2 separate regions of the Homo sapiens genome follow, and region 2 is linked to region 1. Evidence: fine-mapped expression QTL. Tissue or cell type: hippocampus. Region 1 holds a variant in brackets; the other region holds the start of a gene. All regions are shown on one strand. Distances are from middle to middle.

The links. PIP is the estimated chance that this variant, and not a neighbour inherited with it, causes the effect.
Region 2: LBHD2 starts here. The variant in region 1 is fine-mapped to the expression of LBHD2 in hippocampus (GTEx, PIP 0.96).

The regions. Positions count from the first base shown.
Region 1 is chr14:103,212,559-103,220,661 of GRCh38, reverse strand. No RefSeq gene overlaps it. Among named protein-coding and RNA genes, the nearest start is that of LINC00605, 28 kb to the right of the region's middle. The variant G/A (reference allele first, on the strand shown) is at 3,843.
Region 2 is chr14:103,079,414-103,087,516 of GRCh38, reverse strand. It overlaps LBHD2 (LBH domain containing 2), which reads right to left and starts at 3,307. Exons shown (of 4, transcript NM_001330236.2): 1 at 3,170-3,307; 2 at 1,436-1,541. The coding sequence starts at 1,504.

The DNA.
Region 1 (8,103 bases):
CGCCGCGAGGCTGCGGGGGGCGAGGGGAGGGAAGGGGCGAAGGAACCTCAGCCTCCCCACCCCAGCCCCGCCCCCGGGCCCAGCTCCGACCCCGATGCGTCCCTGAGGCCTGGGTCCCAGGGGCTCTCCGCGCCCGGTCGCCCCTTCCCGGAGTCGCCACGTCCAGATCTTGTCACCGGCCCGGGACCACCTCGTGGGCCGGGCGGGGTGAAGTGCCGTTAGGAAGGACGGTCCCATGGGATGGGGGGCCGGGGAACAGGAGACGCACGCCAGGTCGGGAGAAGAGGACGGACTGCGCAGAGCAGAGGCCGCAGAGGGTCGGCCCGGGAGCGCGGGGGTCCCTCCACACGCTCCCCGTCCCCGCTTCCCACGCGGCTCCCTTCGGACCCCAGGGCAGGTGGGGACGAAGAAGTGAGTCGGGTCCCCGCTGCGGGCCGTCGTCCCCTCCAGCCAGGCCATCTCCAGGGCTTCAGGTTGGGGAAGGGGCTCCTGTGGCCTCCTGACCTCGGGCCTCGCAAGTGTCTGCCCTGGGGTAGGCACTGACTTGGTGTGGATTGATTGATGAATTGACTGGAAGAAGGAAGGCACCCTAGGAACTGCAGGCTCTTCCACTTAGGGCCTGGGTTTCAACTCAGTCCCCACTCACCACCTTTTCCATGTGTCTTCAAAGCCCCTCTTCACTCGGGGGTGACCCTGTCTGTCCAGAGGGCTTGCAGCCTTCAGGGACGCAGTTTCCAGTTTCTGGGCGCCCATATGGACTCTCCCCTGAAGGCCACCTCCCCTTCCCCTGGGAGCAGGGGGCCTGCAGTTTCTCCCACTGCTCACCTTGAACTTTCTTCCTCCGCCTGTCCGGGAAAGGCCCATCCGGCTCATCCCAAAGGCCCAGGGCATCTTGGTGAAAAACCCCAAGGGCGACAAACAAAAGACCTCTACGATCTGGTTTAGAGTAGACAAAGCTCCTCTTTTTCCCTCCAGCACATAGCTCATTTAAGAACAAACTTAGACACTGGATACTGTAGTTGGGTGAAGTGGCTCAGGCCTGTAATCCCAGCACTTGGGGAAGCCAAGGAGGGAGGATTGTTTGAACCCAGGAGTTTGAGACCAGCCTGGAGAACATAGTGAGACCCTACCTCTACACACACACACACACACACACACACACACACACACACACACACACACACAATCAGCTCCTGCTGGTGCACACCTGTAGTCCCAGTTACTAGGGAGGCTGAGACAGGAGGATCGCTTAAGCCCAGGAGGTTGGGGCTCTTGTGAGCCATAATTGTGCCACTGCACTCTAGCCTGGGTGAGAAAGCAAGGTCCCTGTCTCAAAAAAAAAAAAAAAGAAAAAAACTGGATACTTTGGCCCTCGTTGAGGATACGGACATATATATACACACATATGTACACTCACGCATCTATGGTGTAAAGTGGCAGCCATGACTGTCTCTTCACCTGACTTGTCTAGAAATGCTCAGCTCCTGAGGCAGTGACCCTAGAGGGACAGAGACTGCATCTGGGAGAAATGTGGAAGGGTCAGCTGCGTCCAGTGGGCTCCCTGAGACACTGCAACTGCTTTGTCCGGGTCGTGTCTACTAAGTGGAACTCAAGCAAGAGTCTCCGTCTCTGATGCTGGAGTGGAATGTCCACGGGGGCAGGTAATGAAGAAGGGAAATTCAGGAGCAGCTGCAGCCCCAGCAAGACAGACAGAAATCCATGTCAGTTCCTGATTCCTTTTGCTTAAAACACCTCCTTTACAATTTGCTTTAGTGTAAATGTTAGTGACAAACTCCTTTGTGCTGCAAGTGTCTTTATTTGGCCCTTATTTTTTATTTATTTATTTATTAGAGTCTGGCCCTGTCACCTAGGCTGGAGTGCAGTGGTGCCATCTCGGCTCACTGTAGCCTCCAGCTCCCGGGTTCAAGTGATTCTCCTGCTTCAGCCTCCCGAGTAGCTGGGATTACAGGCACGCGCCACCATACCTGGCTAATTTTTGTATTTTTAGTAGAGGTGGGGATTCACCAGGTTGGCAAGGCTGGTCTTGAACTCCCGACCTCAAGTGATCCACCCACCTCAGCCTCCCAAAGTGCTGGGATTATAAGCGTGAGCCAGTGTGCCCGGCCACATTCATTTTTAAAAATTTGCAGCCATTTGCTTTTCAAATGTTTTGCTCTGGTCCAGTTTCTGTCCTTCTGGGGGCCTCAAATTCCACCTATGTGAGACTCCCCTACCTTTGTCTCTTCTCCCTCTTCTCTATTTATTACTTTTTTGGTCTGTTCTGAATAATGTATCTTATATCTCTCAGTTCATTGATATTTCTCTTCACCTGTGTTTAATCTACAGTTCATTTATCAATTAAGCATAGCAGTTTTAAAGCTGTTGTGTCTTATTAAACCAGTATCTTGGGTCTCTATGGGTCTGTTGTTATCTGTTTGGTTTTGTTGTTGCTTGGATTTTTTTTTTTTTTAAATCTTATTCAGTATGGACCTGTTTATCTTTTATTATATACTAGATAAATCCTCTGTAGAAATAACTTGAAACTTGGGTTATTCTCTTCCTCCAGAAGAATTTCAATGGTTTCATCCAGATGCCTGGAAGCACTAACAATAAAAGAGCACCTTAATCTAATTTCAGGGCTTGAGATTTTCCTGAAAAATCTCCCTAAAAGTGGGTTTCAGTCTCTCTGAAGGCTGATTTACTTAGTTTACCTTCACTTCCAGGATGCAACTTTTGAGATCCCAGCCCACAGCAGCAGATGTTTTACCTGGATTCCTAATCTTGGTGAGCTGTGGACTCTGTATTGATTATTTGTTGCTATATAATGAACCCAAGGCTTAGCAGTCTTAAATTTAAAAGATTTATTATTTCTTATGAATCTGAGTGTTGGCTGGGCTTAGCTGGATGGTTCTTCTGGTTTACATGGTTTTGGCTTAGGCCACACATGCCCTACATTCAGCTAGGAGCCCAGCTGGGGATGGAATATCCATGCGTTCACTCACACAGCTGCTGCCTCATCAGGGATGGCTGGATTAGCTTGGGGCTAGGAAACTCTCTCTTTCTCTTTGCATCCTCTCTTGTCATCCAGGAGTCTAGCTTTGAGCTTATTTATGTGGTGGATGAGTTGCAAGAGGACAAAAGAGGAGACTGTCAGTCCTTTTAAAGGTTTGGCTTGGAGCTGACACAATATCGCATTCTATTATTCAAAGGAAGTCAACAGCCAGGTCCGATTCTAAGGGACGGGAAATAGACTCACCTCCTTATGGGAGCTGCAGCTTTTGTGTGCAGGGGGAATAGCTGGTGGTCATTTCTGCAGACTGTCTACCACAAACCTCAACGTTTACACCTGTAAGCCTTTGGAGCTTTCAAAAGTGCAGCGCAGGCCAGTCGCAGTGGCTCACACCTATAATCCCAGCATTTTGGGAGGCTGAGGCTGGAGAATCACTTGAGGCCAGGAGTTCGAGACCAGCTTGGCTAAGACAGCAAGACTCCCACCTTTACAAAAACTAAAAAAAAAAAAAAAAATTACCCAGGCACGGTAGTGAGCACCTGTAGTCCCATCTACTCAGGAGGCTGAGGTGGGAGGACCGCCTGAGCCCAGGAGCTTGAGGCTTCAGCGAGCTGTGATTGCACCTTTGCACTGCAACCTGGGTGAAGGCCTCCCCTCTCCTGCATGGTGGTGTCACCTTACACCTCCAGTGACGACCTTCTTCAGTGCCAGAAGGGGTGTGTGAGGGGAAAAAAGCTGATTTTCTCACCTCTCCCTGTAGTCCTGCCTTCCCAAGTGGCCCTGGAGGCTCCAGGCCTGCTGCTGTCGGAGAGGGGAGGGGGTGGGGGGTGGA[G/A]ACACATCCACGCCTCAATAGTGAATCTTTGTCCCAAAGCTGTCCCCTGCCCTGCTGTTCTCTGACAGGGCATTGGGCTGTCAGGGAAAAGGCTGGGGATTCCCATGGGACCGGCAGTGTCCCGGGCTCCCTTGCTGGCCTGGGTCTCGGCCTCTCAGTATGTCAGACCTCGACTGGGGAAAATGCACCAACTCCCTGCGTGAGCTATTCCTCCACAGCCCGCCTCCTCCCACACCCACCCCTGGACCCACCTGTGCTCACGGGACCCAGGCCCACCTCCCCTAGCCCCCGAACCCCGTCCCGTTTCCCTGAAGTCACAGATCCTGATCTTTCTCCATGTGAGCCCACTGGACTCAGCTGACCCTTCCACATTTCTCCCAGATGCACTCTGTCCCTCTAGGGTCACTGCCTCAGAAGCTGAGCATTTCTAGACAAGTCAGGTGAAGGGACTGTCATGGCTGCCACTTTACCCCATAGATGTGTGAGTGTACATATGTGTGTATATATATGTCTGTATCCTTTGCATGCAGTCCCCCCACATTGCCTACAGTCCCCTCTGGAGTTGGGACCGGCTTAACGAATTGATTCTGGAAGTTATGCTCAGAGGCTAGGCCCAGAACCGACTCCTCCAACCCTTCCGGTAGCTTTGTAAGTCCCGGTTACATCTGGTAAATCGGCCCTGCTTAAATTCCCTGCAGGGGTTCTGCCTCCTGCACCCCGACTGCCACAGCATTGGCTTCCAGAAAGAAGCGGCCTCAGCACCAGGCAGCAGGCTGGGGCCGGGCCAGCACCTGCAGCTACAGACCTCCAGGTTGAACAAGATCAATTCACCGCTCATCACAGGGAGGGAGAGCACCCACCACAGGGAGCCACAGGGTGTCTCAGTAAAAAGGTGTTAGAAAGGGCTTAGATTTGGTCAAAATGACAGTGAGATATCATCTCACCCCAGTTAAAATGGCTTCTATTCAAAAGACAGGCAATAACGAATGCTGGCGAGGATGGGGAGAAAAGGGAATCCTCGTACACCGTGGGTGGGAACGTAAATTAGTACAGCCACTATGGAGAACAGTTCGGAGGTTCCCCAAAAAACTAAAAATGGAGCTACCATATGATACAGCAGTCCCACGGCTGGGTATATACCCAAAAGCAAGGAGTCAGTGTATCAAAGAGATGTCTGCACGCCCACGTTTACTGCAGCACTGTTCACAATAGCCAAGATTTGGAGGCAACCTAAGCGTCCATCAGCAGATGAATGGATCAAGAAAATGTGGTGCATGTACACAATGGAGCACGATTCAGGCACAGAAAAGAATGAGATCCTGTCATTTGCAACAACATGAGGGAACCGCAGGCACCTTGGGGGGCCCACAAACAAAGGATAAATGCTGAGGTGACGGGCACCCTACTTACCTGATATTATTATACAGTGTATGCCCGTATCAAAAGATCCCATATGCCCCATAAATACATACACCTACTATGTACCCACAAAAATTAAAAAAATAAAGGGCTTCGCTTTGGGCTTGCATGAAGTGAAGGAAGCTCGAGGAAACAGGGATTGCACTGGATTAGATGCTTAGGAAGCAGGAGGTTACATGATTGACTATCATAATATATCTTTTTTTATTTTTATTTTTTTGAGACGGAGTTTCACTCTTGTCGCCCAGGCTGGAGTGCAATGGTGTGATCTCAGCTCACTGCAACCTCTGCCCCCTGGGTTCAAGAGATTCTCCTGCCTCAGCCTCCTGAGTAGCTGGGATTACAGGCATGCACCACCACATCTGGCTAATTTTTGTATTTTTAGTAGAAATGGCGGGGTATCACCACATTGGCCAGGCTGGTCTCAAACTCCTGACCTCAGACGATCTGCCCGTCTCGGCCTCCCAAAGTGCTGGGATTACAAGTGTGAGCCACTGCACCCGGCCTATCATAATAAATCTTATCTGGAAGGAAGGCAGACTAGAGAGAAGCTGAAGTTGTCATTGGTAAAGAAGCAGTCATCACTCCTGTTGGCCAAGGTTCGATGATTTGACGTGGTTTGGACAGTGTTGGTATTTCCATCTATGTTTCGACATGACTGCAGAATGCTCTTATTTTATCTTCATCCGTCATAGTCACAGAGTGGCCATGTCTGATGTTGACGTTCTGTGAAATTATTTATGTTCAGCAGGAGAACACCGTGGCCTAAATGTAGATGCCAGGCCAGCTCCCAGATGTCAGCGGCAGCAAGAAGCTATCTCTGCAGGCTGGGAGGCTGGTGAGCCCTGCACTGCCACAGGAAAACATGTGACCAAACTCTTGTCTTCAGCGGCTTTGACGGTAGACCATGTAGCGAATGCAGTTGTCAAAATGCACTGATAGACAGCGTCTCCCCCTCCCCACTCTGCACTGTCTCCTCTCCTACAACCCAAACTGATGTCCACACAGGGAGGTCTTTATGACCAGTTGATTGAGGGGGGAAAATCTCATCCTGGCTTAGAGATGGTCCAGAAGTAGGTGGCTACAGCACTCCAGTCCCACTCAGGGTGGCCCTAAAGAAGAGTGGTGGCCAGGTGCAGTGGCGCATGCCTGTAATCCCAGCACTTTGTGAGGCCGAGGCAGGCAGATCACCTGAGGTCAGGAGTTCGAAACCAGCCTGGCCAACAAGGTGAAACCCCGTCTCTACTAAAAATACAAAAATTAGCTAGGCATAGTGGCATGTGCCTATAGTCCCAACTACTCGGGAGGCTGAGGCAGGAGAATCACTTGAACCCGGGAGGCAGAGGTTGCAGTGAGCTGAGACTGCACCACTGTACTCCAGCCTGGGCAACAGAGCGAGACTCTGTCTCAAAAAAAAAAAAAAAAAAAAAAAGAACAGTGGTAAAGGAGAGTCCTCTCAGTTGTCATGTCATTACTTCATGTGCCGCATTTGTTTGTTATACTTTGCCTGGACTGGAAGATGGCCAGAAGTATGGCTCTATACTGGCTTATGGACTAGTATAGAGGCTAATGGTTTGGCTAGATCATCAGAGACTTGGAAGAAATCAGGTTGGGAGATTGGTATTGAGGTGGTCTGGGAAAGGACGGACCTCTCTGGATAGGCAGACTTTGAGGGTACCTTGTCACATGTGAATGCTCATCCAAAAGCATCTTCTAGAGGGGGCTGTCAATAATCAGGTGGGCAAGACAGTCTTTTCTGTGCATTGCAGTCAGCCTCTTTCCCCAGCCATCAGAATGGTTGCTCAATGGGCCTGTGTACAGAGTGACCAAGGAGGCAGGGAAGAGGCTGTGCATGGCCTCAGCATGGACTTTGCCTCACAAGTCCGACCTGGTTATCTTCACTGTTGAATATTTAACCAATAACAGAGACCCTGATATATGGCATCATTTCCTGGGAGAATAATTAGCCACTTGGTGGAAACTTGATTACATTAGATCCCTTCCATCACGGAAGGAAAAGCAATTTGTCCTCACTGGAATTTATTCTGGATATAGATTTGCTGTCTCTACGTGTAATGCTTTTGCCAGCACCACCATCCACAGAATTATAGAATGCCCTGTGGACCTTCATCATATCCCATAAAACATTTCTTTGATCAAGGAATTGATTTCATTGCAAAAGAGGTGAAGCATTAGGCTCATGGCCATGGAATTCAATGATCCTGCTTTTTGTTCAATCACCCAAGAGCAGCTGGCCTGATAGAATGGTTGGATGGGCTACCAAAGACTTATCTTAGCACCAGTTGGGAGATACCACCCTGAATGGATAGGCCCCCATCTTACGGTTTTGATATAATCTTTATTCAGTGATTAATATATGGTGGTGTTTTTCCCACAGCCAGAATATAGGAGTTTGGGAGTTAAGGGGTGATAGAGGGGAATTGGTTTGTTTCACTATTATACTTAGTGACTCAGTACGTTGTTTGAGGCACCTCCTGGTACTCCCATTCCAACAGTAAAAGGTTATCACAAACAACGCCAACAAAAAAATGGCAGAACCCTACTGAAAGTTCAGATCTTTCATGAATGAACATTTGGGTCATACTACTAGATGAAGAACCCCAACCAACCAGGGCCTGGCTGAGGGCAAAGAAAACATGGAATGAAAGAAGAAAAATCTAAAAATCAAATACTAGCAAACAATTCAACGGCCCATTCAAAGGATCATACATCATGACCAAGTGGGATTATTCCTGAAATGCAAGAATGGTTCGACATAAGAAAATCAACCAATATAATGCCCCACATTACCTGAATGAAGGGAAAAGAAACATGATCATCT
Region 2 (8,103 bases), 130 kb after region 1:
TCAAGGTCTTTGAGGCTGCAGTGCTACGTGCAGAACTCTGTCCCTCAGCGCCCCGGTGGCCCTGACTTGCCTGCCCTGTCCCACCCCCACGCCTGTGCTCGGGCAGATGGCCCTGCCTGGAGCTCCCTGTCTCCCATTTCTCCACCTAGAAGGGAAGCTGCTGGGTCCACCTTCCCAAAAGAGCACAAGGGCCTCGAGGAAGGACAGCCACGCAGCAGGGGGGACTTAGCTGAATGGCCCTCGGCCACTGCAGCAAGATCCCTGAACAGTGCACATTCCTGAGCTCCAGCCCAGACTCTCTTTTAACCACGGACCATATGTGACCCTCAAGTGTGAGAACAGGTGTCACTGGACTGGGATGTCTGTGGAATGAAGGAGCTGTCAGAGGACAGCAGAGCAGGGACCCCATCCCTACCCCAAAGGCTGGATCCTCCCAGGGGCCACCCTCATGCTGGCATTGCCAGCCAGGGGGGCTCATCCCCCAGCCTGCTCTCCCTCCCCACGTGCCATTCTCCTTCCTGCCCCCAACCAAGGGTGCTCCTCTCCAAGTCTGCCCACTGGGGTGAACGAGGTCCAGGCCAGCAGCGTTTGCAGCTCGGAGTCCTGGTGCTCACCTCTGTCCACCCTGCCTGGGAGGCTGTGTCTGCAACCCCAAGTTCCAGACTGGTCCCTATATGACTCCAGGCTGGTCCCCCTCTCTAGCCCCACTGCTCCCCAACAAGGAGAATGGCTGGGCTCTAGCTGGGCTCTAGCACTCAGAATACTAAGGCTGCGACCCTGTGTAGGGAGCTTGTTTTTTTTTTTTTAGTTTCATCAGCACCTCCCCATCCCCTGCCAAAAGGTGACACTAGGGGCAGGGAACCCTGGCATTTCCTCACTCAGCAGAGAGCAAAGCGTGCCTTGGGGACAATCCCTGGGGTCCTCAGGTCAGGAAGGAGTGCTAAGTAAGCCAGGAATGCTGGCCTTCAATTTTTTTTATCCATTATACCTTTATAAAAGAGCAACAAGCCGGGCACAGTGGCTCACGCCTGTAATCCCAGCACTTTGGGAGGCCAAGGCAGGTGGATCACCTGAGGTCAGGAGTTGGAAACCAGCCTGGCCAACATGGTGAAACCCGAGTCTACTAAAAATACAAAAATTAACTGGGCATAGTGGTGGGCACCTGTAATCCCAGCTACTCCAGAGGCTGAGGCAGGAGAATTGCTTGAACCCCGGAGGCGGAGGCTGCAGTGAGCCAAGATCACGCCATTACACTCCAGCCTGGGCAACAGAGCAAGACTCTGTGTCAAAAATAAATAAATAAATAAATAAGCAATGATCTCCCCCACCCAGATGGGTAAACTGAGGCCAGCAGCAAGGCAAGGCATGCCCCAAGTCATGGGACAGAGTTTGAGGCTTGCTCCCTCCCGACCCCCCCAGGGTCCCGAGCGCATACCTTCCCTTCTGGGCCTCCAGCCCCCTCAGCAGCGCCTGGCTGTGGTGGAGCAGGCCGGGGGGTGCTCATGCTGCTGCCGCCACTGCGCCACTAAGCTGCACGAGGACTGGGAGCAGAAATGGGGTGTCTGCTGTTGGCCTGATGCTGGATCCACACTCCCCCGAAGGCTTCAGGTGCTAAGCCCACCCCACTCCACCCCAGCCCAGGCCCAGTGCCCATGGCTCCAGCTGGACCTATATTGCACTGCTCCCTGCCTGAGCCCGCCGCCAGAGGGGGCACTGGACCCTGGCCGCACAGTGTGCCTGCAAGAGGGCACAGGCAGGAGGGGAGACCTGGGAAGGCTTCCTGGAAGAAGTCTGCTGATCTGAGGCCTGAGAGGTGAGCAGGAGGTAGCTAGGCCAGCTGGGAGGACAGAAGCACATTCTGAGACAGGAATAGTGCAGGAAGGACACGGAGTGTCCTAGGGACCTAAACGTTCCTGAGACGGGAGGCTGGGAGTAGTAGGGACTGGGTTCAAGTCAGCCAGAGGCCAAGGTGCCCATTTCCTCCTCGAGAGCATGCACCCTGCACACCCCGGGCCAGGCCCTCAGCACCCACAGCCCAGGGGGAAATGAAGTCCTGCCCCTGCACTTGGCCGCACCCACTCAGGCTGGCCACAGCAGGGGGAGCCCCACTGGAGCCCTGGCAGCAAGGGCTCTGGGAAGAGAGCCCCTGGCAGGAGTTGGCACCAGCCAGACCCTTCACCTGCGCTCGGGCCGTGTGGGCTCTTGGGGCTACGCCCTGGTCAGAGGTAGAAATGGGGGTGGGGTGTGGCAGTGGCTGGCATGCAGGCAGTAGGGGGCCACGGGCGGGGGCAGCCCTGCAGGAAGGGGACAAGGCAGTGGGAGAGCAGAGACCAGCAGGATGGAATGCCTGTGACGTCCTGCTGGGGTGGGTGAGGGTGGTCCTGTGGCCGCCAGCAAAGCAGAGGGCTGCTATTCTGAGAAATGAGGTTTCTTTCACCAAACACCCCACTCAGGTCAGCTGGGGTCCCACTGAGGCCCAGGGAGGGCTAGGAGGGGCACACACTGCAGGAGGCCTCTCGGGGCAGCGGGCAGTGAAGCCACAACCTCTGGCTCCTCTGCCCAACCCCAAAGCCCAGGGATGTCTCAGTGCCCCACTGCTCCCAGGTCCGGCCCTCCATCAAGCCTCTTCTGGATCCCATCCCAGGACCCCAGAACTCAGGTTAGAGTCCAGGGCAGCCAGGACAGAGACCCAGCCAGCCTTGGGAAGGAGGCAGAGGGAGAGGCAAGAAAAATACTGCCACAGAGACCAGGCGAGAGGTGACTGAGCTGGAGACAGAGGAGAAGAGAGAGAGAGAGAGAGACAGAAACAGACCCACAGATGACACTTGGCCCAGAGAGAGAGGGATGACAGAGGCAGATGATAGAGCTGTCAGCTTGAGCCAGGCGGGGGCAGGCAAGCAGGGAACAAGTGCCCAAGGGCTGCCTTGCCCTGCCCGGCGCCAGGGTCCAGTGCCAGCCGGGGCACCACACATCGAGGGCACCCACCACCCCCAGCGCCGCGGGATCCCAGGTCTTGCTGGGCACAGCCCCGGGGACACAAGCGCGCGGAGGCATGGCGTTCCACAGCCGGGCTGACCCCGCGAACCCACGCCGTCCCGTTCCCCAAGGAGCTCGACTCAAAACTCCCAAATCCCCCCCCATGCTCCTCCCGCTCCCAACCACCCCGCACCTAGCCGTCAGGGCGCTCCCGGGGCCCGCACTGCCGGGGCCAGGCTGGGGAGGGGCGACCCTGCGCCACACTCACGCTCACCGCCCGCGCGGGTGCTGGCGCTGGGGCCTCCGCGCTCCGCTGGCTCCGCGCTCTCCCGGCTCGCTCTCCTTCTCGCGCTCCCCGCCCACACGCGCTCTCCCGGCCTCCCTCGCACTCACGCCCACCGCGGGGCTGGCCGCCGGTCCTCAGCGCCCGCGCCCTCCCAGCTCCAGCCCCCAGCAAGGGCCCGGCCTCATCTTCCCTTGAGCCGACCCCTCCCCCAGGGCCTGCCCCTGGCCACTTGAGACTGAGCCTCAAGATTGGCGTCCAGAAATTTGAGGTGCAGAATTCGGTGGGGCCAGATACATGGAAAGAGGACTCCTTCCTATTGGGGAATAAAGACAGGAGTAAAAAGGACCAAAAAAAAAAAAAAAACCCAAACTGCCGGGCGCAGTAGCTCACGCCTGTAATCCCAGCACTTTGGGAGGCCGAGGCGGGCAGATCACCTGAGGTCAGGAGTTCGAGATTAGCCTGGCCAATATGGTGAAACCCCGTCTCTACTAAAAATACAAAAAAAAAAAAAAATTAGCCAGGCGCGGTGGCAGGTGCCTGTAGTCCCAGCTACTTGGGAGGCTGAGGCAGGAGAATCTCTTGAACCCAGGAGGCAGACGTTGCACTTAGCCGGGATCGTGCCACTGCACTCCATCCTGGGTGACAGACTGAGATTCTGTCTCAAAAAAAAAAAAAAAAAAAAACCTAAAAACCCAAACTGGGATGCGCTGCAGGAAGCAGGGGGGGGGGGGGGGAGGGGGTCACCCCTCAGCCCCCCTCTCATCTTTCCAGTTCCATTCCCAAAAAGGAGCAAAACAGCCCTGGGACAAGCTGTCTCATTCAGCCCAGTGCACAGACCTGACACCTGAGCCAAGGTGCATAATCTCTGGTCCATGTAATTCCTACCCTGCAACCAGGAAGCCTCCACCGTCAGTTATCTAACATCCCACTTCCATTCAATACCCACAGTCCAGCCACGGTCCGTCTACCATTCACAGCTATTCATCTATCTTTTGCCATCCCGCCACCATCTGAGACCCACCATCTGCCATCCATCATCCACCATCAATAACCCAACATCCACCTCATCCACAATCCACCACTACCATCAATAACCCAACATCCATCCCGTCCACAATTCACCATCTACCTTCAATAACCCAACATCCATCCCGTCCACAATCCACCATCTACCTTCAATAACCCAACATCCATCCCGTCCACAATCCACCATCTACCTTCAATAACCCAACATCCATCCCGTCCACAATCCACCATCTACCTTCAATAACCCAACATCCATCCTGTCCACAGTCCACTACCTACCTTCAATAATCCAACATCCATCCCATCCACAGTCCACCATCTGCCTTCAATAACCCAACATCCATCCCATCCACAGTCCACCATCTGCCTTCAATAACCCAACATCCATCCTGTCCACAGTCCACCATCTACGTCCGTTTGTTTGTTTGTTTGTTTGTTTGTTTGTTTGTTTGTTTTGAGATGGAGTCTCGCTCTGTTCCCCAGGCTGGAGTGCAGTGGGAAGATCTCGGCTCACTGCAACCTCCGCCTCACGGGTTCAAGCAATTATCTGCCACAGCCTCCTGAGTAGCTGGGATTACAAGCACCCACCATCACGCCTGGCTGATTTTTGTATTTTTAGTAGAGATGGGGTTTCACCATCTTGGCTAGGCTGGTCTTGAACTCCTGACCTCGTGATCCACCTGCCTCGGCCTCCCAAAGTGCTGGGGTTACAGGTGTGAGCCACCGCGCCCGGCCCACCATCTACGTTCAATAACCCAACATCCATCCCATCCACAGTCCACCGTCTACCTTCAATAACCCAACATCCGTCCCATCCACAGTCCACCATCTACCTTCAATAACCCAACATCCATCCCGTCCACCATCCACCATCTACCATCAATACCCCAACATCCATCCCATCCACAGTCCACCATCTACCATCAATAACCCAACATCCATCTCATCCACAATCCACCATCTACCTTCCCCCATGCAACCACCAGCCATCCATTCACAATCCACCATTCAACCACCGTCCAGTATCCAATGTCCATTAACCATCCATCTCCAGTCACCATCCCATATGCAACCACCACCCATCCATCATGCACCCATCCATTCACCACCAGCACCCACCATTTACCAAGCATCAATACACCACTAAATACCCATTGATCCAACATTCATTCACCATCGATCCATCCACCACCTATCCATCCATCACTCACTATGTAACAGCTTTCCATCAGATATTTAACACATCCATCTACCATTCACATCTCCATCCACATATCTAATTGTGAATCATCACTCTACTATTCATTTGTCCTGATTTATCCCTTAACCTCCATCCAATCAGCAACAAGTCACCCATCTACAATTCACCCACCAGTCATTCACCATTTGCCATCCATTCATATTTCTATTAACTGTATTCCTCCATCCATCCACCAACCATCTACCATCACCATCTCTTTTTTGGTGTTTATTTGTTTGTTTGTTTGTTCGTTCGTTTGAGGCAGAGTCTCTCTCTGTCACCCAGTCTGGAGGGCAATGGCGCAGTCTCGGCTCACTGCAACCTCTGCCTCTGGATTCAAGCAATTCTCCTACCTCAGCCTCCCAAGTAGCTGAGATTATAGGTGCCCACCACACCCAGCTAATTTTTGTATTTTTAGTAGAGACGGGGTTTCTCTATGTTGGCCAGGCTGGTCTCGATCTCCTGACCTCAGGTGATCCACCCGCCATGGCTTCCCAAAGTGCTGGGATTACAGGCGTGAGCCACCACACCCAGCCTACCATCACCATCTCTTATCCATATCCACCACGTATCCATTCATTCACTATCCATCTCACAACATCCTCTATCTATCCACCCATCATCCAGCCAAAATTCACTATTCATCCAAAATCCATCCAAGTACCATCTAGCATCCATTCATATTCATCCATTCTAGAAAAAAATATTGACTGCCTTCTATGTGCCAAACATTGTTTTAGGTGCTGAGGACAGAGTAGAGAGACAGCAGTGAGCATTTATTTGCCATTATCCATCGACCATTACAATCCACTCACCATCCATCCAGTCACTATTCATGCCCATCCCACACTCGTTATTCTTTCTCCATTCGGTATCCATCTTCATTCATCATCCACTCTACCCACTTGCTATGTATCCATCTTCCTCCATCTGTACATTAAAGCATCCATTTACCACCTCTCCATCTACACACCCACCATTCATCTTTCATGCATCACTTTTCCAAGTTGTAGCCACCTACTGTTTAAACCTTCATCCATCCGCTCAGCACCTGTTCATCATTAGTCATCCAGATTCCATCCAGTTGTTATCTATCCACATCCACCTTCCATTTGTACCTCCACAGCACACAACCCATTATTCATCCAGCTAGCAATCATTCATTTATTTGCCATCCAGTCCCCATTCATGCACCAGGCAGCCACCATTTACTTGTCCACCACTCATGATCCATCCATCAGTCATATACTCATTGGTATTTCTGTCCCATCTGCCCATCCATTCTCTGTGGATAGATCCATCACAATCATCCACTACTATTTATCCACCATCCATCCACACTTCCATGATGTATCTACCCACTAAGCATCCACCATCTACTATTAATACTTATTGCCTGCAGTTTATATCCACTATGTATGGATTCATGTGGTATCCATCGATCCAACAATTCAGCATCCACGTCCGTCCATTTTCCATCTATCAATCTACTGTGTATTTATCTATTCTTCATCACTTAATCAATCACCAACTACATAGATGCATCTACCATCCATCATATTATATCCATCCACCATCTAGGATCACCCTCTACCATGCTTCCAGTGCCCATCCAATCATTAGCCATACATTCTTCTACCCACCACATACTCATTCCATCATTATGTCCATCGTTCATCCACTATCACTCACACAGACAGTTATTCATCCCCCACCAATCAGCCAGCCACCTAGTAATTAACTCGTCCATGTGTTCATCTATTACCCTTAAGTTATATTCTTATATTATCCACATACATAAACATCAGTCCACTGTCCTCACTTCATCTCACCGCCACCCATCCCCATCATTCATCCATCCATCTTCTCACCATTCTTTTGCCCATTCATTCATAAACAATACATTCATGTATTAATAAATATTAATATTAAGCATTATTGACTCCATGTCAATGCTGGATTCTGGGATCATTGAGAGAAATAAGACCCAATCCAAATTCACGATCCAATGGTCCAAAACGGAGAACCAGGTCAGGCAGAGAAGTGTCTTTGTGAAAATGCGAATTGGGTTCTCCTGGATGTGGGATGGATAGAGCTCTTTGCACAAGTTCTCCAGGAGGAAGATGGGCAAGGGGGCATCACAGCAGGGTAGGTGGAGGCCTGACCTGGGCACTGTGGCTGCAGCTCAGGAGATCTGATGATGTGGGCATAGCGGGAGGTGAGACTGGAAAAAGAAGGTAGCAGAGATTGTGCAAAGCTGAGAATGCCCAGCAGAGGGGTCAATCCCTGATGTGGGGGCAGCAAGGAGCTCTGGGAGGGTTTGAGGCAGACAAGAACCCCAGTCATCTACATTCTGAGAAGGGGCTCCCCACATCTGTACACTGCTCCAGGCAAGAGCACAGACCAGAAGGACAGGGGCCTGGCCTAGTGTCACACACCAATGCCAGAGTAGGTCAGACACCTCACACCCTTATCACTGTGGCTGCAACCGCACCCTCTGAAGACCCAGACACCCTCACGTCAGAAAGTCAGCTGGCATGCTCCCCTTCCATCGCCCTATCCCCCAAAAGGCCAC